Linked DNA regions of Homo sapiens. The protein of the gene in region 4 interacts with the protein of the main gene of each other region in a pairwise test. Each region holds a gene or a part of one and is shown on either strand. Other genes may lie near its edges.

The links. The genes of interacting proteins can lie anywhere in the genome.
Region 1: the proteins of HIPK3 (region 4) and MTMR4 interact in a two-hybrid assay, tested with the Homo sapiens proteins (one large-scale study listed by BioGRID and IntAct).
Region 2: the proteins of HIPK3 (region 4) and HEYL interact in a two-hybrid assay, tested with the Homo sapiens proteins (one large-scale study listed by BioGRID and IntAct).
Region 3: the proteins of HIPK3 (region 4) and ZNF107 interact in a two-hybrid assay, tested with the Homo sapiens proteins (one large-scale study listed by BioGRID and IntAct).

Annotation. Positions count from the first base shown.
Region 1 is NC_000017.11:58,494,139-58,497,638, reverse strand, and holds part of MTMR4 (phosphatidylinositol-3,5-bisphosphate 3-phosphatase MTMR4), read left to right. Parts: intron 1-1,308; coding exon 1,309-2,707; intron 2,708-3,500. UniProt on the Homo sapiens protein: Lipid phosphatase that specifically dephosphorylates the D-3 position of phosphatidylinositol 3-phosphate and phosphatidylinositol 3,5-bisphosphate, generating phosphatidylinositol and phosphatidylinositol 5-phosphate.
Region 2 is NC_000001.11:39,633,144-39,636,643, forward strand, and holds part of HEYL (hairy/enhancer-of-split related with YRPW motif-like protein), read right to left. Parts: intron 1-3,500. UniProt on the Homo sapiens protein: Downstream effector of Notch signaling which may be required for cardiovascular development. Transcriptional repressor which binds preferentially to the canonical E box sequence 5'-CACGTG-3'.
Region 3 is NC_000007.14:64,664,915-64,668,932, forward strand, and holds the start of ZNF107 (zinc finger protein 107), read left to right. Parts: upstream 1-1,218; 5' UTR 1,219-1,368; coding exon 1,369-1,371; intron 1,372-4,018. UniProt on the Homo sapiens protein: May be involved in transcriptional regulation.
Region 4 is NC_000011.10:33,354,452-33,357,523, reverse strand, and holds the end of HIPK3 (homeodomain-interacting protein kinase 3), read right to left. Parts: 3' UTR 501-3,072; downstream 1-500. UniProt on the Homo sapiens protein: Serine/threonine-protein kinase involved in transcription regulation, apoptosis and steroidogenic gene expression. Phosphorylates JUN and RUNX2. Seems to negatively regulate apoptosis by promoting FADD phosphorylation.

The sequences.
Region 1 (3,500 bases), on a different chromosome or scaffold from region 4:
GAGTCCTGCCTTCAGGACACTTCAGTAGAGGGAGTTAAACAAGTAAACAATAAAGTGCAATAATGTGTTATAGGAAGCACTGAGCAATGTGCTTTGATGTGGATTCTTTTGTTTAATCTTCATAATAGCTTTAAGAGCTAGGTACTTTACCTTTATTCCATAGATGAGGGATCTGAGGCGTAGAGAAGTTAAAGTCACACAGCAAAGATGTTGTTAAATTGGGATTTGAACCCTGCCTATGGGACTCCAGGAACTATAATGATAACCACTGTTATTGCCTTCCTGGAATTTCGTACCATTAAAAAAATCAAAATTCGTCACAAAAGGTATATCAAGTATGTATAAAACATTTGTTTTAAGTTTCAAAAACCGATTACTTAAAATAAGCTGCGTTGTAACTGCCTTTGGGGAATTTTTCCGCATAGGCTGAACTGACTGAGCCATCTAAAAATAGGAGGCCAGTGAAGCCTCTACTGTTTCCCTGGTGAATTTCACTCAAGTTTTCATTGCTCTAAGGACTTTGAACTGCATTAATAATCAGGATGGTCACTCTTGAAAATGTCCCTTAACCTATCTGGTATATATGAATGCCTCTAGAACTCTGAGTGCTATATACTAGGGGAAGTTTCATGGGGCCTTGGGAAGCAGAGGAGCACACTGCTGCTAAGTGGTTATCAAGAGCAGTGTTGAGGGAGTTGTGTTGTCTTAATAAAGTTTGTGGTTATTATGTTTGTGGTTGGTTGCCTGTATTTTGAATTCTCATAGCATCTCTACAAGGTATGATTTATTATCATCATTGTATAAAGGGAGAAACCAAGTATCTGAGAGGTTAATTTACTTATTTGTAGTCATGTAGCTAATTAGCGTCAGAGCCAATATTGTCTAGCTCCAAAACCCATCTTCTTTCTGTTTTACTGTGATGGAGGCAGTGGGATATTGGGTTTGAGTCTCAGGTATAGTCCTAGCTGGAACAGTAGATTCAGAAGGCATTGGCATAGAAGGCAGCTGAAACCACTGTAGTGGTTGAGATTGCCCAGGGAGACTGGTAGGTTGAGTGCTGACAAAAGCTGAGGATAGATTTTTGGGTTCCGGAGGACACGGTCCATGTCTCATGCTTTTTTTACAGAGTAAACTTTCAGTGAACATTGGTTATTTGTGATCTTAAGGGTCCTTATTTCTAAACTTAAGTGTTCTTAAGTGTCATTATTTCTAAACTCTGGCTTTGATATTGCTCCATTGATTCAGTTCCATATATTGTATTGCAAGTGCCCATCTCCTGACCTGGAGGTGTTATATTTGTCTTTCCAGATTACCTAAAACCAGATCCATGGATGATCTTCTTTCTGCCTGTGACACAAGCAGCCCCCTGACTCGTACATCCAGTGACCCTAACCTGAATAACCACTGTCAGGAGGTCAGGGTAGGCCTGGAGCCCTGGCACAGCAATCCTGAGGGATCAGAGACAAGCTTTGTGGACTCTGGGGTAGGAGGGCCTCAGCAAACTGTAGGAGAAGTGGGTCTTCCTCCTCCTCTGCCCAGCAGCCAGAAAGACTACTTGAGCAATAAACCTTTCAAGAGTCACAAAAGCTGTTCTCCAAGTTACAAACTGCTTAATACCGCAGTGCCTCGGGAAATGAAGAGCAACACCTCTGATCCTGAGATCAAAGTCCTAGAAGAGACTAAGGGACCAGCTCCAGACCCTTCTGCCCAGGATGAGCTGGGTAGGACTTTAGATGGCATAGGGGAGCCACCTGAACATTGTCCTGAAACAGAAGCTGTCAGTGCACTCTCCAAGGTCATTTCTAACAAGTGTGATGGAGTTTGTAATTTTCCTGAGTCTTCCCAGAACTCTCCTACAGGTACGCCCCAACAGGCCCAGCCAGACTCCATGCTAGGTGTGCCCTCCAAGTGTGTTCTTGATCACAGCCTCAGCACCGTTTGCAACCCACCGAGTGCTGCCTGCCAAACTCCTCTAGACCCAAGCACTGACTTCCTCAACCAAGATCCCTCAGGGTCTGTGGCAAGTATCTCCCACCAGGAACAACTGAGTTCTGTGCCGGATCTGACCCATGGGGAGGAAGACATTGGTAAAAGAGGAAATAATAGGAATGGGCAGTTATTGGAAAATCCTCGCTTTGGGAAAATGCCATTGGAATTGGTCCGGAAGCCAATTTCTCAGAGCCAGATCAGTGAGTTCTCTTTTCTAGGGTCCAACTGGGACAGCTTCCAAGGGATGGTGACTTCATTCCCAAGTGGGGAGGCCACCCCTCGGCGGCTGCTTTCCTATGGCTGTTGTAGCAAGAGGCCAAACAGTAAGCAGATGCGGGCCACAGGGCCCTGCTTTGGGGGCCAGTGGGCTCAGAGAGAAGGTGTGAAGTCACCTGTCTGTTCTAGTCATTCCAATGGACATTGTACTGGCCCAGGAGGAAAGAACCAGATGTGGTTGTCCAGTCATCCAAAGCAAGTCTCTAGCACAAAGCCCGTTCCACTGAACTGCCCTTCTCCAGTGCCTCCTCTGTATTTGGATGATGATGGACTCCCCTTTCCCACGGATGTGATCCAGCATAGGTTACGGCAAATCGAAGCAGGGTACAAACAAGAGGTGGAGCAGCTACGTCGACAGGTGCGTGAGCTTCAGATGAGGCTGGACATCCGTCACTGCTGTGCCCCTCCAGCAGAGCCCCCCATGGACTATGAGGATGATTTTGTAAGTAGTCACCAACTGCCATACACCCATTATTTACTCTGTTCATCCAGCCTTCCCTCCATTCAGCATTTATTCGTTGGGTACTTGCTGTGTGCCACTGAGTTAGGTGCCTGGGCTATAGGATGAAAAACAAGTAAGCAATTAGAATGATGTTTTTAAGTGCTATGATTGAGGAGGCATCAGGTGTTAGAGGGCTGGAGTGGAGTGAAACGTCAAGGAAGACTTTCTTGAGAAGGTAATGCTTGAGCTGAGTGCTGAAGAATGTGTGATACTTAGCCAGGTAGACAGTGAAAACAAAACACCATTTGCAGAAGCGTAGTGGCAATAGATACTCCAATGATATGGCTTAAAAAGATGGGACATGCGAGTATATATGTGTACATGCATGCATACACGCTTACACTGGGGCTATGAGAGACAGTCAAATAGGGTGGTGGGAGGTGACATTGGAGAATTAGGTGGAGATTACAAGGGTCAGGTTGAGTGCCCTTCTTGTTTGGATTTTACCCTTAAGGCAATAAAATTTTAGGCCAGTGCACAATATGATCAGAGTTGTAGTTTAAGAAAATGACTCTTGCAACAATGTACAATTTTTTTTTTTTTTTTTTTTTGAGACGGAGTCTCGCTCTGTCACCCAGGCTGGAGTGCAGTCGTGCAATCTCAGCTCACTGCAACCTCCGCCCTCCCGGGTTCACGCCATTCTCCTGCCTCAGCCTCCTGAGTAGCTGGGACTACAGGCGCCCGCCACCATGCCCAGCTAATTTTTTTTTTTTGTATTTTTAGTAGAGATGGG
Region 2 (3,500 bases), on a different chromosome or scaffold from region 4:
CGGGCGCGCCGGCCGCCCGCCCTCCGCCCCGCCTGCAGCTGCCGCCTCCTCCCACGCGGTGCGGCCGGGGGCGAAGGGGAGGCGGCATCTGGGTCACAGGCCCCTCTCGGATGCTCTGGGACACTGCCCTGGCCTCCCAGAAGGCCCCGTCCCTCCAACCTCGGCCTCTCCTCCCACTCCGGGCCTTCCCTCTGCGCCCCGGTTGAATGATGGATGTTTGCTCACACCCCAGGAGCTCCCATTACAGAGAAGAGGCTCAGCCCTGGGGGGGCTTTTCCTGCCCAGACTCTGACCAAAATAATCTCCAGCCCAACTGCTAACCCTTCTTCAGGTTTTCTGCTTCAGAAGCTCTCTTAGAATGGTGAGGATTCGCTGGGTCCACTGAGGCATCATTCATTTGGCCAACACTTCTAAGGCCCTATTCAGGCCTGGGTGGGTGCTGGTGCACTCAGCCAGACCCCAGCCCTTCCCTTCCTCAACTCAGCTCCAGTGGGCAGACACTGCACCAACAAACAACAAACAAGGTGACTCCCCTGCCGTTTCAGAAGACACAACGCCACACATCTGAACAGGAATCTGCAAGCTGGCCTTCACCCACACCTGCTCCTGCTGCCCCTGGGTTTCCCCATCTCAGTGAAGGTACCCCAGTTCTGCAAGGTGGAAAGCTGATGCTGTCTTTGATTCCTCCTCCTCCTCACCCCCACCTCATCAAAACCTGCCCACGCTATGTCTAAAATATATCTCACGTCTGTCCTCTTCCTCTCCGCCACTTCTCTCAATGCTACGCCTTTATCATCTTTCATCTGGGTGACTGCAAGAGCTTCTTGTTGGGTCCTTTTACACCCTCTTTTACTCTCTACAAGCCTATCTCCACACTGCAGGCAGAGTGATCATTGAAATCTGATCATATCACTCACTTAAAACTCCTCAGTGGCTCCCCAACTTTTGTTTGTTTGTTTTGGGTTTTTTTTAGATGTAGTCTCACTCTGTTGCCCAGGCTGGAGTGCACTGGCATGATCTTGGCTCACTACAACCTCCGCCACCCGGTTCAAGTAATTCTCCTGCCTCAGCCTCCGAAATAGCTGGGATTACAGGCACCCACCACCACGTCCAGCTAATTTTTGTATTTTTAGTAGAGACGGGGTTTCACCATGTTGGCCAGGATGGTCTTGAACTCCTGACCTCAGGTGATCTGCCCGCCTTGGCCTCCCAAAGTGCTGGGATTACAGGCATGAGCCACCATGGCTGGCCCCAATGTTTTTTAAGATCAAGGCCACCATCTTTCAGGTGGTCCAACTGGCCCCTGTCAACCCCTCTAGACTCAACCGTCTTCTTCTGTATGCCCCAGCCTATGAATGCACCAACTCCTTCATTCAGTTGCATGCACTGTCCCCTAGCCTAGGTCCACCATCTTTGGTTCACCCATCACCCCAAGCCCCAGTCCCTTTGCCCCATAACTTCTACAACCCATCAGATCTCAACTCAGATGGCACCTCCCTGGGGAGCCTTTTCTAACATTCCTCCTCCCACTAGTGTCCCCTGCTCAATACTCTCCTAGCACCCTGCTTTCACAGCATTTATGCCAGTTCATTGTTTTATATTTATATGGTTATTTGATTGATGTCTATCTCTCCAACAAATCCATAAGCTCCATGAGGCCATGAACCATGTCTGTTACATTCACTATTGCAGCTTCAGTACTCAGCAAGGGCTTGGAATACAGCAGAACTCATGGTAGAGCTTTCTTCTCTCACCCATGTCTTTGGCATCACTGGGGAACAGAGATGTAAGCACCATAAAATCTATGGCCTAGGACTTTGTGGAATGGGGGCGTATATGACTTAACACAAGGGTCCCAGCCCAAGGGTCCCAACCCTTTTGGCATTTGAATTTGGATCATTTTCATCAACTGCTCAGAGAAGGTTGCAGAAGAGACCAGATAGCATTTGTCAAATCCTACTGCTATGTCTCTGGCTTTGTCCAGACACATCTGGAAAAGGATATCTCCCACCCAAACATCTGGACAAGCCGACCTGGTAAGAGGTCTATAATAGCTCCTGGGAGGGAGGACCCAGCAAGCTAGGTCCAGGGCTTGTAAGGCCAGATCTTGAGATCTATGGGGCAGCTTGTTTACAAAGCCTCACTGGTTCACTGGGGACAAACCCCAAGAGCCAAGACACACTAAGAAACACGGCCTTTGTTCCCCCCAGCTTGATAAAGCGTCTTTCCGGGTATTAGGTTAGCCTTGCACACGTCACTGCCTCTCAGCCTGATCCCTCCGCTGGGACCATCTGTTGGAGGCTGACGCACCCATTTCAGGGCAAAGCAGTGCTGCCATTCCTTTTTCCAATCTCCTGGTCAGCTTGTCCCTGTCGTATTATTTCCCCCCTTCTCCTCTTCCCATATCTCAGAGGCAAACCTCACATTACAGTTTTCTTGGCAACATTATATGTCTTTCCCTCCTTTGAGCCTTACAAAAGCCCATATTACAGATGAGGTTGCTGAGCTTCAGGGAGCTAAAGCAGGTTGCCCAGCCTACCCAGCTGCTAAGGAGCAAAGCCAGCAGGGAATCCGCATCTTCTGGCTCCGCTTCAGCATTTTTTCCCTTCTAATTCCTACTTCCTGTCTGTCTGAATAGCCCTCCGGTCCCCTTATTTTTAAAGTTCCCAAGAGCCCAGCCAGAGCTCCCTTCCAGCCCGCGATCTGGCCCTGACAGTGGGATGAGGTGTGGGATTCTCTTGTCTGAGAATCTGAAAATGACACAGATTTTCATGGACCCAGAGAAGATATGTTGACCATCAAGATCTGCTCCATAGGCCTCTAGTGGCTCCTAGCCAGAATTCTGGGGCGGTCTCTTATGGGGGGAAGCTTTCCAGGTGGTCCTGACCACCCTCAGTGCTGACTTCCCCTGGGAACTCCCCCGTGGAACCCTTGCAGATGACCCTAATCATTTTGTGTCAGCCAAAGGCAGAATCACAATGTCCCAAATGAAGGAATCTCAGAGAGAACTGAGTCCATTTGTAAAATAAGGAAACTCAGAGGGGAAGGGATCTTCCCCAGGCCACACAGCAAATTAGAGGAAAATCGGAACTACAGCCAGGTCTACTCTAGTAGCTTTTTTTTTTTTTTCTTTTCTTTTTTGAGACAGAGTCTTACTCTGTCACCCAGGCTGGAGTGCAGTGGCACAATCTCAGCTCACTGCAACCTCCGCCTCCCAGGTTCAAGTGATTCTCCTGTCTCAGCCTTCCAAGTAACTGGGACTACAGGCACGTGTCACCATGCCCAGCTAATTTTTTGTATTTTTAGTAGAGATGGGGTTTCACCATATTAGCCAGGATGGTCTCGATCTCTTGACCTCGTGATCCACCCACCTCAGCCTCCCAAAGTGCTGGGATTACAGGCGTGAGCCACCGTGCCCGGCCTCTAGTGGCTTTTAATCTGGGGCTTTTGCCAGTGCACCCCATATATACATCATCCCGTCATGTAGATCTCAGAGCCAG
Region 3 (4,018 bases), on a different chromosome or scaffold from region 4:
TTGTTTTTCATACATCTAGTAGTTTTAATTATATACATATTAATTACATTAATTCTTAACAACCTTAGGTTATTTTATTCCTGCTGTCCTCTGCTCTTTTTATGGCCACGGTCTGTTCCACCTCAGAACTGAAGAGAGATGTTGGTAGGGAGAGGCTCTTCCCTCACCTCTGGCAGAAAAGGAATGTTCAGGCCCTTCAAACCCCTGTTGTCAAAGCTGCACTTTAATGTGACAGCTATTGGCCATGTATGGCTACTGGGTGTCCGGAATGTGGCTGGTCAGAACTGCGATGTGCTAGAAAGGTAAAATACAGAGTTAAAGATTTAGTTCCAAAAATATACACACTTTATTAATAATTACATATTGCTCAGATATTAATATAATATTTTTGATATAGTGGGTTAATTAAATGGTTAGAATGAATTCCACCTGTTTCTTCTTCCTTCCTTTTTTTTTTTTTTTTTTTTTGAGACGGAGTCTCACTCCGTCGTCCAGGCTGGAGTGCAGTGGCACTATCTCGGTTCACTGCAAGCTCTGCCTCCTGGGTTCACACCATTCTCCTGCCTCAGCCTCCCGAGTAGCTGGGACTACAGGCCCCCGCCACCGCGCCGGGCTAATTTTTTGTATTTTTAGTAGAGACGGGGTTTCACCGTGTTAGCCAGGATGGTCTCGATCTCCTGACCTCGTGATCCGCCCACCACGGCCTCCCAAAGTGCTGGGATTACAGGCGTGAGCCACCGCGCCTGGCCTTCTTCTTCCTTCTTGAAGTTTGACTGCTAGAAAATTTAGAATACACATGTGGCTCACGTTTTATTTCAGAGGATTGCCTCCTTTTTAAACTCTCAATCGGCCTGCTCAAAGGACCAGAATTCAGAAAGGGCATAAAATCTGGAATTTTAAAATAATTGTTATATTATTTTCATGTGTGAATAGCCACATAATATATTATTTATAAATGCATATGACTTTATATACAGGTTAAATGCAAATGCCTTCTGGGGTGGACCTGGCTCAACTCAGGGAGGAGCCCTGCCTGAAAAGGCTGCAGCTTAGGTTTCACTTTATCTTCTTCCAGCCCAGCATCTGAGCACAGCTTCTGTCACTCAGGGCCTGAGGGAGCAGGGCAGCAAACGTTATCCAATCAGGACTGCTGGGCTGGGAACCGTCCAATCAGGCACGCAGCTGGAGCGGACAGGACGGCTTCCGGGATTTGGCGGGGCCTTTGTCTCTGGCTGCAGCCGGAGCTCCTGCTCTCCTCCTCACTGCTCAGTGTCCTCTGCTCCTAGAGGCCCAGCCTCTGTGTCCCTGTGACCTGCAGATATTGGGAGATCCACAGCTAAGACGCCGGGACTCCCTGGAAACCTAGAAATGGTGAGAGTGCTGGGTCCGACATCCCGAGAGAGGGGGAGGGGCTGGTTGGAACCGATCGGAAGTGGCTGTGGCTGGACTCGGGCCTCCAAAGTCCGCGGCCCCAAGTTCTCCTTGGCGCAGCTCGGCCCTCAGTCCCCCGCGGCCCCGAGTTCTCCTTGGCGCAGCTCGGTCCTCAGTCCCCTTCAGCCGTAAGATGGCGGCTGGGCTGACAGCCGGGACCCTGGGCGTCCTGTCTCCTCCCTGCTCAGTGACTGTGCCCTGGCCTGGAGCCCTCTCCGGGCGGCTTTGCACCCGCAGCGCGGCATCTCTCCCCGATTGTGCAGGGATGCCGGGAGGGTCATCAGGGGAGAATCCTGACTCGGGATGCGGGGTTCATGAATGGGAAAAGCTTTAGTCTGTGGGGTTCCTAGTCCATCTTTTTTCTCTTAAAAATCTATGGAAGTCACCACAAAAATGTTAAAGAATTTAATCAAAGAGTAATTGAAGAATTATAGAGCACCCAGCTGTGGTTTGTAGTTTATTTTCCATGGGAGGGGCTTGAAGAAAAGACTTTTAGAAGGTGCATGATAAAGGAAAGCAAACTCAATAATTGGTTAGGTAGAGTTACGTAGTTTCTTAGTTTTAGATGAAGGTGGAAATTTTCTGGTCACGTAATCAGAGCTTAATTGGCAGTTCATGGTTGATTAAGTCTAAATTTTGTTTTCCCCAATGTAGTAATTTACAAAAAAAAAGCATTTGAGTTAGATTTTTTAAAAAGTAAAAACCCTGGGACTAGAGCCACCTCAGTCTAATTGCCTGCCATTTAGTTATTTTCACACTCCACAGGGGACAGATTTTCCCCTGCAACTTTCACGTGTCTCAAGCAGGGTCTCAAGACTACTCCCTATTCCCCATTCTTTTAGCCTAACTGACTTTCAGTAAAATGCTAAATTTCCAGTTTCCTTTGACATTCCCAAATCCCAGCTTCCCCTCCCTAATTCACATTATCAACTATTTGTCCTTTAGTGTACATTTTAGATACTGTATTTTAATTAATCATTGTTGACAAATTATTGGGTGGCACTTTAAACAAATTGTTTGCTGTTTGAAAATATTTCCAATGAGAAGAAAACAAAAAATAATCCCCTGACACTGTATTGTAAAAAAAAGTCTGTGCCTATTTTCCTTTTATCTTCCCTAGGCGCAGAGATCTTATCAGAATGTTTTTGGGTCAAGGTTTCCCTTTGGAAACTTTACAGGGTGATGTGTCCTCAGCCACCTTTCGGTTTTCTCCTGGTCCTGGGTTTCAGTACTGTCTGGGGATAAATCAAGATATCAACTGTGGCTGTGTATGCTAGAATCTCTAGTAAATTTCAGCTCCTGGCCTGGAATGGAACTCTGGGTATCTGGGAATGGGAGACAGAGGACAATCTGAGGTTGGAGTGTAGCCTCTCAAGGGAGCAGGTGGATGCCCTGGGGCTGAGAGGAATCTCCTGGTATACCCTTCCTTTGGAAAGCTAACCCTTTGAGGCATTAAGATTGTGTTCACTCAACCCGACTTCCATTTCTCAGAGGTACATTGCTGGTCAGCCAATCAGATGCTGGTATTGAGAGGAAAACTCAGAAATAATTTCTGCCCCCTGGATTCTCTAAGATTTGTGAAAGAAAAAATAGTATTCCAGAAGACAAAAAAAAAAAAAAATCAAACTTGACCCCAGTGAGATGGTACAAGAACTTGCAAAATGAAATGCACTTGGAGTAGTCACTGAGGCATAGGGCAGTGTCTACAGAGAGGGTGGTCATTGGGCACTTAAATGAGCAGGATGGGGTAGGAGAATCTAGTGTTTGGGTGGCCTGACTTGACACATGAGTCAGACACATCTGTTTTCTTTTTTTTTATTATTATTATACTTTAAGTTTTAGGGTACATGTGCATAACGTGCAGGTTTGTTACATATGTACACATGTGCCCTGTTGGTGTGCTGCACCCAGTAACTCGTCATTTAGCATTAGGTATATCTCCTAATGCTATCCCTCCCCCCTCCCCCCACCCCACAGCAGGCCCCAGTGTGTGATGTTCCCCTTCCTGTGTCCATGTGTTCTCATTGTTCAATTCCCACCTATAAGTGAGAACATGCGGTGTTTGGTTTTTTGTCCTTGCTGAGAACGATGGTTTCCAGCTTTATCCATGTCCCTGCAAAGGCCATGAACTCATCAGACACATCTGTTTTCTAATCAGCCCCGCCACTCCCTGGGTTTGTCACCTTGAAAAGATTTGTTCACTTATTTTGATTTCAGTTTTATAACTGTAACTTGCATTTTATTAGTATGATTTAAAAGTTAAGAAAATATTTACAGAGCATAAAAGAGGTGAGTTTCAGAGAAAAATAATATCTAATCATATATTCCATTTATTAAGAATTCTCATTTACCTTTTTCTTTCCCAGACTTAGTTTAGGAATTTACTCAGGTGTGTTTTTTATGGCTGGGTGATGTCCAACGGTATTCCAAGGCTTAGTTTTTAGAGTGCTAGCAGGGAAACAAAAAGGAAAAAAACCTCTCTTCCATTTTGACTGTAGAAAATGAATACATTTTTACAAGAAAATGTGGTAGATAATTGATGAGTTACATAGATTTATGAAAGCATCAGTTCCTCTTTTTGCAGGGT
Region 4 (3,072 bases):
GGTGTTGGTATTTTAGGATGTAAGCTGGCCTACTACAATCACATTCTTTCGAAGTCATATGTTTTAAGTATTAAAGATACATGTGAATTCCCTATTCATCCACACATATTGAACAGAAATTATTTCTCTCAAAAAATATTTGCGGAAACTTAATATTGAAGGAAAATGGGACAGGGTCATCTTATGGTTGCAGGTAGTCCGGGTACACTGCCTCAGACTTCGGTTTTAAAAGAACTGATAGAAAGTAGATTAGTTATGGTTTGATATCCTGGTGTGTATCTCAGATTCCAACTCATTGACAATGTGACTTTGTGCAAGTTCCCTAAACATTCTGCAGCTATGCCCTCATTTGTGTAACAAAGATAATAATACCTATCTCACAAGGTGGCTTTGAGAGTTAAATAAGATGATGTAAGTTATTAATAGATACTCAATATTGTTAACCTCTCCCTTCCCTACCCTGTAAGGAGTATTGGGGTGGAAAAAAAGTCAACAAGCTGTTTGCTGCAATATATATATTTTAATTCAAAGTGAATCGACAGTAATACACCATAAATTCTTATTTTGACACTCACCAAAATAGTCACCTGGAAAACCCGCTTTTTGTGACAAAGTACAGAAGGCTTGGTCACATTTAAATCACTGAGAACTAGAGAGAAATACTATCGCAAACCGTAATAGACATTACATCCATAAAATTTTCCCAGTCCTTATTGTAATATTGCACAGTGCAATTGCTACATGGCAAACTAGTGTAGCATAGGAGTAAAAGCAAAAACAAATAAACCAAAGAAAGAAAGCCACAAGTCTAAAATTGTTAAACAATTAACAGTTCAAACTTAGTAATCAAATCTGTATCATTGGATTCATTAAAACAAATCTTCCTACACCTTGCAGTGTATGATTTAACTTTTACTTAACACAGTCCAAGTTTAAAATTAGCAGATTTTAAAAATGAAAATGTTTTGCTAATACAGTAACATATTTAATTAAACACGCTGGAGGAAAAAAAAAACAACTAAATATCAGGATATTTGATTTAAAAAACATTTTGCAAATTAAAATAGTATGCAAATATGCAACTTGGAAATCATGCAGTGTTTTATTTAAGAAAGCATTAAAACCGAAGAAAACTGGTCAAAATGGTTTTTAAAAGGTATAAATCCAGATTACTTTGTCAATATGCTAAATTAAGAATTTAGCAGAATTTTGAAATTTATTTTAAAATACATTAAAATGCCCATGATTGCAATTAAAGAGCAGTGTAGTTAACTGGGATATACCTTTATCAAACATTAATACTGTATTATGAAAATGTTGAAGTTTACCATTTATGTCAATTTAACAAGACTGCTTTAAGTCTTGGAAATTAAAGACAAAAAATACAACATTTCAGGGTAGTAAACATGGCCCTAAACAAAAAGAAAACTCTGTCAGTTTTGTACCTGTTGTGATACAATCAATCCTTTGCACTTGGTGTTTCTGAAACAATGTGTTGCCAGCATTGATTCTTTCCTAAGAAGTAAGCAGATCCTAATAATCTGCTGGAACATATAAATAAAATTAGAAGGCTGTGGAGGGCAGCAAATTTACTTAAATAGTGACCCCATAAATGTGTCATCTGTAAATAATCTTTTAAATTAATCTTAGGCTACTCCTTTTTAAACATTTAATTTTTTATATATATATATTTCTATTTGTATAAAATGCATAGAATTAATTACTAAAAACACTGAAACTTGTGGGGAAAATTAAGTCCTTCATTTTCAGTGTGACTAAAAATGTACTGCTGGTTTTTACTTTATGATCTAATACTGTAATTTTTAAAATCAATTTCAGGCACATTTATTTCATTGATGATTATTAAATAAAACACTGCTTGTGTTAATGGAGTGAAGAAAACTTATCCATTATTAGCTTATTGTGAACGCTGTACTAGAGCTGTACTAGTGGTATACAATTCATTTATCAAAGAAACGCTGTAAATCCAAAACATCTAGAGTTTTACACTCCAATGCTTTGTACTGTTTATTCCAGTAAATGCTGTAAGATTATATTCCAGATTTTTAAGGAAAAAAGTTAAGTCAAGCCTGCAAGATACAGCTTTCTCAAGTGTCTACAATGCCAGTATGAAAATAAAAAATTAAGTTACACTGATACATCCAAGTTTTTTTAATATGCAGTGATGAGCACAAACATTAATAGAGATAAAATACTGATGCAAATAACACACCCCAAAGTAACAAATGCAATTATTTTCCACCATTTACAATACAGTAGTTACAATGACACTCCAAACAGAAAAGCAAAGTAAAAAATCAAAACCCCAATTTCTATTCATGTAATTAGACTTATACAGAAATTAGAAGGCTAAATAACAACTAGTTAATCACCTAATTTCACAGCTATCTGAAGTGGCAATCGTTATATAGCAGCTTATCTATGATACATTCAAGATAAATGATACAATTTATTACTTGCCTGTAAGCTAAAACACAGCCTCAATTTAATACCTTTCCTTAAATTCCACCTTTACACTACAATATACTTGAGGTCTATGCAAAAAGTAGCTACCTTTATATAGGAAATGGATGATTAAGTCTTTGGTGCTGTAAAAGCAACTTCATTTAAACAGACATAACCACTACCATCACCACCACCCAAAAAAGAAAAAAATGTCGGGGAAGGGGGGAACTCAACACACTTCCTAGAAAGAAAAAAAAGCATGTAATTTCTGTCCCTGACGGAATGTATTAAATAAGCAAACATCACCAACAAGCAAAACAAGTACTGCAATGTAAAAATACTTAAAAAAAAAAAAAACCCTCTCACATGCATAAATCAAAAATTGCACACAAAGAACTCACATCTTTTCAAGCTTCAATAGTAAAAGTTCTGCTACTATTTATTAAATACTGCATGGTTTGCCCAAGCTAAGATAAAACCACATCATGAATCAATGAGCATTTTGCATTTTATTATCTACCCAAAGTCATGCCTACTGTACCTCTAAACATTTTATTAAGTCCAATTATACAGCAAACACTCTCAAAATAAACTTAGATTGTATTG